Linked DNA regions of Homo sapiens. The protein of the gene in region 2 interacts with the protein of the main gene of each other region in a pairwise test. Each region holds a gene or a part of one and is shown on either strand. Other genes may lie near its edges.

Evidence for each region.
Region 1: the proteins of STK3 (region 2) and ZC3H7A interact in a two-hybrid assay, tested with the Homo sapiens proteins (one large-scale study listed by BioGRID and IntAct).
Region 3: the proteins of STK3 (region 2) and GAD1 interact in binary tests that used the Homo sapiens proteins (3 or more experiments, as listed by UniProt).

Annotation. Positions count from the first base shown.
Region 1 is NC_000016.10:11,762,669-11,766,321, reverse strand, and holds part of ZC3H7A (zinc finger CCCH domain-containing protein 7A), read left to right. Parts: intron 1-636; coding exon 637-833; intron 834-1,168; coding exon 1,169-1,269; intron 1,270-2,662; coding exon 2,663-2,844; intron 2,845-3,574; coding exon 3,575-3,651; intron 3,652-3,653. UniProt on the Homo sapiens protein: May be a specific regulator of miRNA biogenesis. Binds to microRNAs MIR7-1, MIR16-2 and MIR29A hairpins recognizing the 3'-ATA(A/T)-5' motif in the apical loop.
Region 2 is NC_000008.11:98,819,123-98,822,775, forward strand, and holds part of STK3 (serine/threonine-protein kinase 3), read right to left. Parts: intron 1-3,653. UniProt on the Homo sapiens protein: Stress-activated, pro-apoptotic kinase which, following caspase-cleavage, enters the nucleus and induces chromatin condensation followed by internucleosomal DNA fragmentation.
Region 3 is NC_000002.12:170,823,249-170,826,901, reverse strand, and holds part of GAD1 (glutamate decarboxylase 1), read right to left. Parts: intron 1-3,653.

The DNA.
Region 1 (3,653 bases), on a different chromosome or scaffold from region 2:
AAATGTTGGGATTACAGGTGTGAGCCACCACGCTTGGCCTATGACCAGATTTTAAACAGAAGACTGTCTCAAACCTTAAGTTCTCTCTAAACAGAATCAAAACACTGAGCTAAGGCTTTGAAAAGTGTTTAAGATGCTTTTGAGAGAACTTGGTATTTTCATGTTTGTCAAACAAGTTTGTGTGAATGAGCTTAGAATGTCCCTAAATGATTTTTTTTTTTTTCAGCTGAGGTGTGGTCCATGAGAGAATCAAGGCTCTTCTCACAGTCTGTGATAAAAATAATTAAGGCTTGTGGTACTTCTCTTTTTTAGAGTTGATACGATCCATCCCCAGATAATATGCATATCATTGTTTGAGGCTGTCCATGAATTGTTAGACAAGTTCAAATGATGCCCTAAATGTTATTTATATTCATTGGCTTTAAGGAAACAATTACCATCTTTTTTTGTTTGTTTGTTTATTTTGACACTGGGACTTGCTCTGTTGCCCAGGCTGGAGTGCAGTGGCAAGATCATTGCTCACCGCAGCCTTGAACTCCTGGGCTCAAGGGATCCTCCCACCTCAGCCTCCCAAGTAGCTGGGAGTACAGGCCAATTGCCATGTTTTCAATGTCTGTCCATTCCCTGTCTTTCTAGATGTTGCTGCTGAGGAGGAATGTAGATATTCAGGCCACTGCACGTTTGCTTATTGCCAAGAGGAGATAGATGTGTGGACACTGGAGCGGAAAGGAGCATTCAGCCGGGAGGCTTTCTTTGGCGGCAATGGAAAGATTAACCTTACTGTGTTCAAACTTCTCCAGGAGCATCTTGGGGAATTTATATTCCTTTGTGAGGTGTGTTCTCCAAAACTTATTTTCCACTGTAAAGTTGAATTTGCAAGCCCAGTGGTATTGTCCTGCCATGTGATAAAACATTCACTTGGTAAATGAATAAATATTCATTTATTTATATGATAAATAATATCATATTTATGAATAAAATATTCCTCTGGTCCTCCCATGTGATAAAACATTCATTCAGTAAATGTTGGCTATTACTGTTACCAAAAAGAATATTAAAACTTCATATTGAATATTAATTTTGTAATGATATTGAAACTAGGACAATATTCTGGGTACAAAATTTATATTTTGTATTTTTTTTGATAATCTTTCTCTCTCTATTCCAGAAATGTTTTGATCATAAGCCTAGAATGATAAGTAAAAGAAATAAAGATAATTCTACTGCTTGTTCTCACCCGGTTACAAAGCATGAGTTTGAAGACAATAAGTATGTTGATAGTTTCTAATTTCTGTAATGACAAAATAGATTCTTTTTCTAGATCTGAATAAAAACTAGTAGTAATGTCTGTCCAGGCATTGCCCTTTCATCGTTATGTTGTTATTTTGAAGAACAATGACAAAATTTTAAAATGTCTTTTAGTAGATTTGGCTGGAAAGTGAATAATTAACTAAATATATTATGTAAAACAGAAAAGCATTATTGATGTATAGTTTCTCATGACATGGATTTAGGTATTTTATGGCTTAAAATATAAGTACCCCCCCCAATTAATTCAACAATTGCATGTAGTGATTTGGTTTTTTTGTTTGTTTTTTTTGAGACAGAGTCTCGCTCTGTCACCCAGGCTGAAGTGCAGTGGCATGATCTTGGCTCACTGCAAGTTCTGCCTCCCAGATTCAAGTGAATCTCCTGCCTCAGCCTCTCGAGTAGCTGGGATTACAGACACCCACCACTAGGCCTGGCTAATTTTTTGTATTTTTTAATTTTTTTGAGACGAAGTCTTTTTCTGTTTCCCAGGCTGGAGTGCAGTGGCGCGATCTCAGCTCACTGCAACCTCCGCCTCCCGAGTTCAAGCGATTCTCCTGCCTCAGCCTCTCCAGTAGCTAGGATTACAGGCACGTGCCACCACACCCGTCTAATTTTTGCATTTTTAGTAGAGACAGGGTTTTACCATGTTGGCTGGGCTGGTCTTGAACTCCTGACCTCAAGTGATCCACCCGCCTTGGCCTCCCAAAGTGCTGGGATTATAGGAGTGAGCCATCACGCCTGGACAATTTTTTGTATTTTTAGTAGCAACAGGGTTTCAACATGTTGGCCAGGCTGGTTTCGAACTCTTGACCTCAGGTGATCCACCCGTCTTGGCCTCGCAAAGTGCTGAGATTACAGGTGTGAGCCACTGTGCCCAGCCCCCATGATTTTTTTTCCGATAAAAATTTAAAATGTAGGGCTGGGCTCCATGGCTCACGCCTATAATCCTAGCACTTTGGGAGGCCGAGGCAGGCGGATCACGAGGTCAGGAGATTGAGACCATCCTGGCTAACACGGTGAAACCCCGTCTCTATTAAAAATTAGCTGGGCGTGGTGGTGGGCGCCTGTAGTCCCAACTACTTAGGAGGCTGAGGCAGGAGAATGGTGTGAACCCGGAAGGCGGAGCTTGCAGTGAGCCGAGATCGCGCCACTGCACTCCAGCCTGGGCGATAGAGTGAGACTCCATCTCAAAAAAAAAAAAGAGAAAAAAAAATTTTAAATGTATTGTCAGTGTAGAACTTTATATATATATATATATATATATATATATATATATATATATATATATATATATATATATTTGAAAAATCTATGGCAGAACAATATTAAAATGTCACTGTTTTCATCTTAGGTGCCTTGTCCACATTTTGCGAGAGACAACAGTAAAATACTCCAAAATACGTTCTTTTCATGGTCAGTGTCAGCTTGATTTATGTCGACATGAAGTTCGGTATGGCTGTTTAAGGGAAGATGAGTGCTTTTATGCCCATAGTCTTGTGGAACTGAAAGTCTGGATAATGCAAAATGAAACAGGTAGGTTTGAGTGCGACTGAGAAGTATGTCTCCTCAAGAGCAGACAGGGTTTAATGAAACAGTAATTTGGGCCTGGCGTGGTGGCTCATGCCTGTAATCCCACTACTTTGGGAGGCTGAGGCAGATGGATCACTTGAGGTCAGGAGTTCAAGACCAGTCTGGCCAGTACGGCAAAATCCCCATCTCTACAAAAAATACAAAAATTAATCGGGCGTGGTGGTGGGCGCCTGTAATACCAGCTACTTGGGAGGCTGAGGCATGAGAATTGCTTAAACCTGGGAGGCAGAGGTTGCAGTGGGCCAGGATCACAACACTACGCTCCAGTCTGGGTGATAACATGAGACTGTCTCAAAAAAAAAAAAAACAAAAAGGAATTTGGAGACCTCCCCTTCTCCATCAACCAGATGTGGTGACGCTATTGATTTTGTCCTGAGCTTCAAACTTTTGATTTTTAGAGTTGCCTATTTTGAGTGTGTTCTCATGTCATTAATTACTGATACAAGTTGATACATGCAATTGTTGGGAGGAAAGATTCCTCAGAAGGCACAAAGAGCTGTATTTGTGTATATTCCATTTCAAAAAAGAGAAACGTGGTATTCATCCTTGCTGATGGATTAGGAGGTATGAGAATAGATTGGAAGCTGAAGGTTCTCCACGTCTGACTGCACCCAGATTGGTGGGCTGTTGTTCTTATAGATATAATTTAAAGGAAGGCTTGTACATTCCCCAGGTATCTCACATGATGCTATTGCTCAAGAGTCTAAACGATATTGGCAGAATTTGGAAGCAAATGTACCTGGAGCGCAGGT
Region 2 (3,653 bases):
CAATGAACGTTTTTGAGACAGGGTCTTGCTCTGTTGCCCAGGATGGAATGCATCCACACAATCATGGCTCATTGCAGCCTCAATCTCCTGAGCTCAAGCAATTGTCCCACCTCTACCTCCCATTTATGTAAATGTGTGGGTCTGTACTGAGTCTCAGTATCAATGAATTTTTTTTTTTAAATGTTGAAAGCCAGTAATATATGATGGCCTGAAGTGTTCCTAGAGTCAACTAAAGACTGAGTTTCTCTAGTTGACATGCAACAGAAGTTTGTTTACCGGAAGTATTGCAAATTTTATTGTCGCACTCCCTCTCTCCAAGAAGGAAGAGCCAACTGACTATTCCCATCAGCACGGCCTAAAGCAATCCTAATCAAGTTAATGCCACCCTAAATTAACCAAGAAAAGCCAAAGGGAAGACAGCAGATGCTTTAGGGACCAAGTTGTTAATTCAGAGATGCTCCTGTTTGGTTGGTTCTTTTCCCCTTGGACTAACTACTTTGAATATTTTGTCCACTTGCCTACCTCTAGAATTGGAAATTTTCCCTAGGGCCTTCCTCTGAGTCTGCTGGGGTTTTTTTAAGAGTTCTTAGAGTTCATCTTCTCAAAGACAACTCCAGCTCTCTATTTAGTCAATCTCTCTGATATACACACAATTTTACTTTCCAACATTCCAAGGAAACATAAATTAGAAATATACACATAAAATGACATCCACCCCTCTTCTCCCTGCAATAATATCTTTGTGATATTCCTACTATCTACTTAACTGGTGTGTTGCTTTCTCTCACCCACTTCCATTCATAAGCGCTGAGAGTTATCTGCTATCTCTCTCCATTCCTAATTCCTGGCCTGAGATCCGGGCTACAGATGCTACAAGTTGATGTGGGCTCTTCATGCTGAAGAATTCATGAGTACTTTCTGCTTAACTCCTCTATATTCTCAACCCGATCCCTTTGCTTTTTCTTTCCATAATAATCTGTTTTCTGATGGGTAATCCATCCAAACACTCATTTGCCCTTATGAAATTAGTGTTTTCTAGCTTTCCATTTGCGTGAAGGACCCCTAACATATGACTTCAACCTTCAATTTTATTTCCCCCAAACTACCCTTTCACACTATTAAAAATAATAATAAAAAATTGCCACAGAATCCAACTATAGCTTAAATTAAAGAACTCACCTGTCTTGAGAGTAAGTATGCTTCAATAGCTTATTCTTTTACTATCCTTTTAGTGTTTTCATTGTTCAATGCTAACCTGCCCTCCAACCATACCTTAATCAACGAATTACACATTTTAAATAACTACTAACACTATAACCTATTTGAGGAACAAGCCTATCTGGTAAAGTGTCTCACTCCAGCAGTGATATTCTGTCCTCTCTTTGACAAGTATTAAATATATTTTCATGCTGCCCACCTGTCTATCATAGAGACCCACCTCCCTTCTATGAAGGTTCCACCTGGTGAAGAGCCCATGTTTTCTGGTCATTTACCTTTCTACCTATCAAAGCTGGACTATTATGTGGTCATTTTTCTCTCAGCTAGCAGTTCCCCTATAAAAAATCCAATAAATTCGGCTGCGCGGTAACTCAAGCCTGTAATCCCAGCACTTTGGGAGGCCAAGGCGGGTGGATCACGAGGTCATGAGATCGAGACCATCCTGGCTAACACGGTAAAACCCCATCTCTACTAAAAATACAAAAAAGTTAACCTGGTGTGGTGGCAGGCGCCTGCAGTCCCAGCTACTCAGGAGGGTGAGGCAGGATAATGGCGTGAACCTGGGAGGCGGAGCTCGCAGTGAGCCGAGATTGTGCCACTGCACTCCAGCCTGGGCAACAGAGCAAGATTCCACCTCAAAAAAAATAATAAAATAATAAAATAAATCCAACAAATTCCATCTAACCAAAATGCTAATTAATGATCATTTAATAAAGGAGTCCCCAACTCCTTTACAGCACAATACAGTGGACCAGTACTGGTCCATGGCCTGTTAGGAACCAGGCAACACAGCAGGAGGTGAGCTATACGCGAGCATTACCGCCCTTGCTCTGGGCTCCAGCTCCTGTCAGATCATCAGTAGCATTAGATTCTCATAGGAGTGCGAACCCTATTGTGCTGTGCATGCAAGGAATCTAGGTTGCACGCTCCTTATGATAATCTAACTATTGCCTGATGATCTGAGGTGGAAGTTTCATCCTGAAACCATTTCGCCCCCAACCAAACCATCTGTGCAAAAATTGTTTCCCACGAGACTGGTCCCTGGTGCCAAAATGGTTGGGGATCTATGATTTAATGAATTTCCCTTCCCAGAGGGAAATCCTTTTAATAACGACTTTGGCCAGCTTGGGCAACATGGCAAGACCTCATCTCTACAAATTAAAAAAAAAAAAAATTAGGTATGGTGGTGCGTGCTTGTGGTCCCAGCTAATCAGGGAGGCTGAGGTGAGAGGATCACCTGAGCACAGGGAGGTCAAGGCTGCAGTGAGCCATGATTGTGCCACTGCACTCCAGCCAGGGCGATAGAGTAAGACCCAATCTCAAAAAAAAAAAAAAAGTTAAAAAGAAAAAAAAGGACTTCTGAAGACCTCAGTGACAAGTATGTTAACGAAATCTAAGGAATCTAAAAACTACTCTGGTACCTCAAGTTGGTGACATGGGTGACCACATCTATTGCCTATGTTTAACACAAACCTTGTTAAGGAGACCAAATCAATGAATATGAGGGTGAGAGGTGCCTTAAAAATCATCTAGGTCTCTGAGTCATGATTCTTGAACTGGGCTACACACTGGAATCTCCAACTCCCAGAGGAGAAGAAGATGCCCAAAGAAGCAAATTTCAAAGTCAGTGACAAGGCCAGGCCTAATACCCATGCCTAACATTATGTGTTGATATGTGTACATACATACATATATATATACACACACATACATACACACACACACATACACACACACATATATATGTAACATACTAAAAATATAAAGGCATGTATGGGAAGGACAAATATCCAATTCATGTCAGTGATTACCTTTTGGGGGATGGGAAGGGAGTGTAATTGAGAAGAAATACACATGGTGGCTTCAAATGTATTGGTAATATTTTTATTAATATTTCTTAAACTGGATGGTAATACCTAAGTATCTATTAAATTAGGCTCTGTTCTTTTTTCTTTTTGTTTTGTTTTTATTTTTATTTTTGTTTCTTTGAGACAGGGTCTCACTTTGTCATCCAGGATAGAGTGCAGTGGCACAATCATAGCTCACTGAAACCTCCCACTGCTGGGCTCAAGCAATCCTCCCACCTCAGCCCCACAAAGTGCTGAGATTACAAGGCGTGCACCATCGCAGTAGGCCCTCATTATCTTCTGGATATCTAAAATTTTGTAATAAAATAGAATAAAAAGATGGTATATAATCAAATGTATATCACATTAGGAATTCAGTGAAATATCTCAGGCTAGAAAGTACTCAGAAAACATACTTGATGAGGTAGGCTTTGATGGAAGAATAAAACATAGATTATTCTTCAGGCAAAAAGTAACACAAACTTTTCTAAAGGAAAAATGTGAATAAAGGTAAAGCTGGGAGTACCCACAGCCTATAACATAAATAAAGAACAACGGGGGCCAGGCACGGTGGTTCATGCCTGTAAT
Region 3 (3,653 bases), on a different chromosome or scaffold from region 2:
TGCCAGAGGGATGCAGGATCAGATGGCACCTGAACTCTGAGACTGCTCCTCTCATCCCAGAACATTGAGCTGTGGAATTTGCCAGACTTGAAAGACCAAACCCATGTGGCCTCATGTAGTGAGGTCCTGCCCAGCTGAACCTCCACTCTGTTGTCCCCGACGCCTGCTTAGGCTTCTGACTCACTCCCTGAGTCTCCCCACCTTGAAGCCCCTTCCCTCTGGGCAGCTGCAGGAAGCAGAAACTCGGCTTGAGGTTTTGACACAGGCTCTCCCAGAGATGCGCTCATGAGGCTGAGAAACGATCGTTATGCCACAGCTTTTTTTTTTTTTTTTTGAGACGGAGTCTTGCTCTGTCACCCAGGCTGGAGTGCAGTGGCATGATCTCGGCTCACCACAACCTCCAGCTCCCAAGTTCAAGTGATTCTCTTGCCTCAGCCTCCCAAGTAGTTGGGATTACAGGTGCCTACCACCACGTCTGGCTAATTTTTGTATTTTTAGTAGAGATGGGGGTTTCGCCATGTTGGTCAGGCTGGTCTCAAACTCCTGACCTCAGGTGATCCACCTGTCTCGGCCTCCCAAAGTGCTGGGATTACAGGTGCGAGCCACTGCGCCCGGCCCTACGACACGGCTTTAAACCTGCATCCCATTCCTTGGGCTGCACTTCCAGTAATGTACTAGGAATCAGAATCCTCTCTAAATCCTGTAATTATTTTATGAATAGCACACTTACACTGCATTATAATTTATGTTAAAACAATTAATTTGCTAATATAAACATATAATATATATTGTCACATGTCTTTCACTTTGTTTAGGAAGGTGTTTGTTCTCTAAAATACTGGGATCCTCAGAAAGGTAGGTGAACCAGGCCTCCCTTGGCTCTGAGAGGCCCTGGAAGGAACTGCTTCTCCAAGGATGAAGAGGTGGTGGATGACATGGAGGTCAGTGCCTTGACAATTTCCCTGGCTAGCAAGGGGTCCTGTAAGAAGGGGTCCCAGAGAATGAAGCCGAGTGTACTCCCTCTTGCTCTACACCCCAGCTTCGAGGACCTAGTTTAAGCCTGTGGGTAACTGGTCACAGAGCTCTACATTCTTAGAGGCAAAGAGGAAAGCAGAGGAGAGGCAAAGCTGCAGTTGTGTTTGGTTGGGTGCTAGCACACTGGCCAGCCGCAAGGGGAGAAAAATCATGACTCCACCTCTGAGCTGAGGGGAGCTCCTGCTGCAGGTTCCTCACCCCTGCTGCCAAACTCAAAGGCTTATGGGGCCCAGTGAGAGAGTGTGTATGTGTATGTGTGCGTGCATGTGCGCACAGGTATGTGTAGCTAGAAAGCACCTGGCTCCAGCCAGTTGTTGCCAAGTGGGGCTTTGAGCTGTGTATGGCATAAACACCTATGGCCAACAGGGCACGTGGGAGCTGAAGCCCAGCACATTCTCTGTTCACCAAGCTATGGCATGGAATTGCATATGCATAGACGGAGGGGCTCTTTTTCATTTGTTTGTTTGTTTTTGAGACAGGGTCATACTGTATTGCTGTTGTCCAGACTGGAGTGTAGTGGCGCCATCATAGCTCATTGTAATTTCAAACTCCTGGGCTCAAGCGATCCTCCTGCCTCATCCTCCTGAGTAGCTAGGACTGCAGCTATGTGGCCACCACACCTGGCTAATTTTTTGAAAGTTTTTGTAGAGATGGGGTCTCCCTATGCTGCTCAGGCTAGTCTCAAACTCCTGGCCTCAAATGATCCTACCACCTTGGCCTCCCAAAGTGTTGGGATTACAGATGTGAGCCACCATGACTTCTTTTTCTGATTTTCTTGGGCTAACAGCACCTGCCATGTTTCCCTCCCCATTGCCCACCCCCAAGTTTTTTCAAGAGAAACCAGAAAAAGAGAGCACTTGAAATCTCTCTATTTTTAAGGTTTGGCACTTGATACAAAATTACACACACATACATACACACACACACACACACACACGAGTGTAGGCTAAATAAAACAGCTCAGGGGCTGTAGTTGGCAGCAAGAGATAAGTGATGGAAGCCCAAGGACACCCTGGGAAGTTAGCAGAGCCTGGAGCCAGAACTTAGGGATCCCTGCAACTCATCGTATTTAGGTCATGCCACCATGCCTGCAGCACTCTCCAGCTCTTGGCAAGACCATGGGTTTCTTCTAGCTGATTACTCTCCCTGGGGGATTCTGCCTCCAGAGCTAATTCTGCCTTCAGGGCTACCACTAGTGGGGCCCAGGGCCTTCCTTGCAGCTTCATTCTGTGGATTTTGGGGAAGGGCAGGGGGAGAGTGGGTGGGGGTTGAATTTTGGCAAGGCACTGAGGGTGCTTCTGAGAGTCATCCAGGGCAGTGGGTTTGGAAGTGGGAAGAGGACCATGAGTTCCTCTGCTCTCTTAATGTGAAAGGGTAAACCAACCTGGATGGTGTCAAGTCAAGAAGGGACCCTCCAGGTCCATCCCTCCAGGGATGAAGGGAGGGGTGTGTGTGTGTGTGTGTGTGTGTGTGTGTGTGTGTGTGTGTAGGCAGGCAGGGAGCTGTGGACCCAGGGCCAACACAAAAGACTGCACTCTGCCTCCACTAGATTAAAATGGAAAGCCAAAGTTGTCTCAAGGTGTGGAAAATAAATCTTGGTGTTTTGTTTTCTTTCACAATCAAACCTAATGGGAAGCCTCCTAACCTGTGGCCCCAAAAGCGGGGCATTTTAGCCCAAGGCAATTTCTCCTCAACAGACTACCATGGGTTGTGGGGAGCAGACACAGGGAGGAAACTCTCTGAGGACTGTAGCCCCCAGGAGCTCTCCCTCCTAGCTTCGGCTGACAGTGGGGGAGGGGGAGTGGAGGCCAACTCCGGCTTCCCTATTTCCGGACCCAGCGAAGCCCCACTCTTTCCCGCCTCTTTAGCCTTTCTGAACTCGTCGGGTATGTCCCCATAAGAAGCACTTAGACCTTTTATTCCCGCGGAAGTGGAGCGCCTGCAGCCAGAGGAGCAGGGGACAGCAGGGGGCAGGATGGGGGTGAATGAGGGCTGCCCCCCACCCTCAGCAGGCCAGGCGCCGCTGGTAAGGAGCCGTCGCCCAGAGCCTGCCCCTACCCTGTCCTCGGCTGCCCAGGGCTCGCTCAGTTCTGCCTGCCCGGCTGGCTGCATGACAATGACGGCTGCAGAAGCCGAGCGCTGCGGCCGCCGAAGGGACCTGGCGCGAAACGGGCCATTAAGCCCAGAATGGCGGCAGGGTGGGGGTGGAGGTGGGGGTGGGAGTGGGACGGGGCTATTTATAGAACAAAGATCCGCGGCCGCCGGCTGCCCCAGCACAGGGATGCAGCCCTGGCCTTGCCCCACGGGCGTCCTGCGCTGGGGAGAAGGCCAAACTCCCAGGCCGCCCGGCGGCAGGGCTGGGCTTTCGGTGGAAAATGGCTGGGTCTAGGAATGGAGCGCCTGTTCCTCCCTAAACGCCGAGTCCCAGGGTCTAGAGGACAGAGCCCCAGAAATGCAGGGAGGGCGCGGCGCGGCCAAGCAGGGAAGGGAGTAGTTCCCCAAAGCGGCCACTCTGCTCTGACTGCAAACTGCCACCGCCCTCGCCCCGGGACCCAGGGAGGCTGGGAAGATCAGGTGCAGAGAGCACCCAGGCGGCGGGCGGCTCTCGGCGCTCCGGG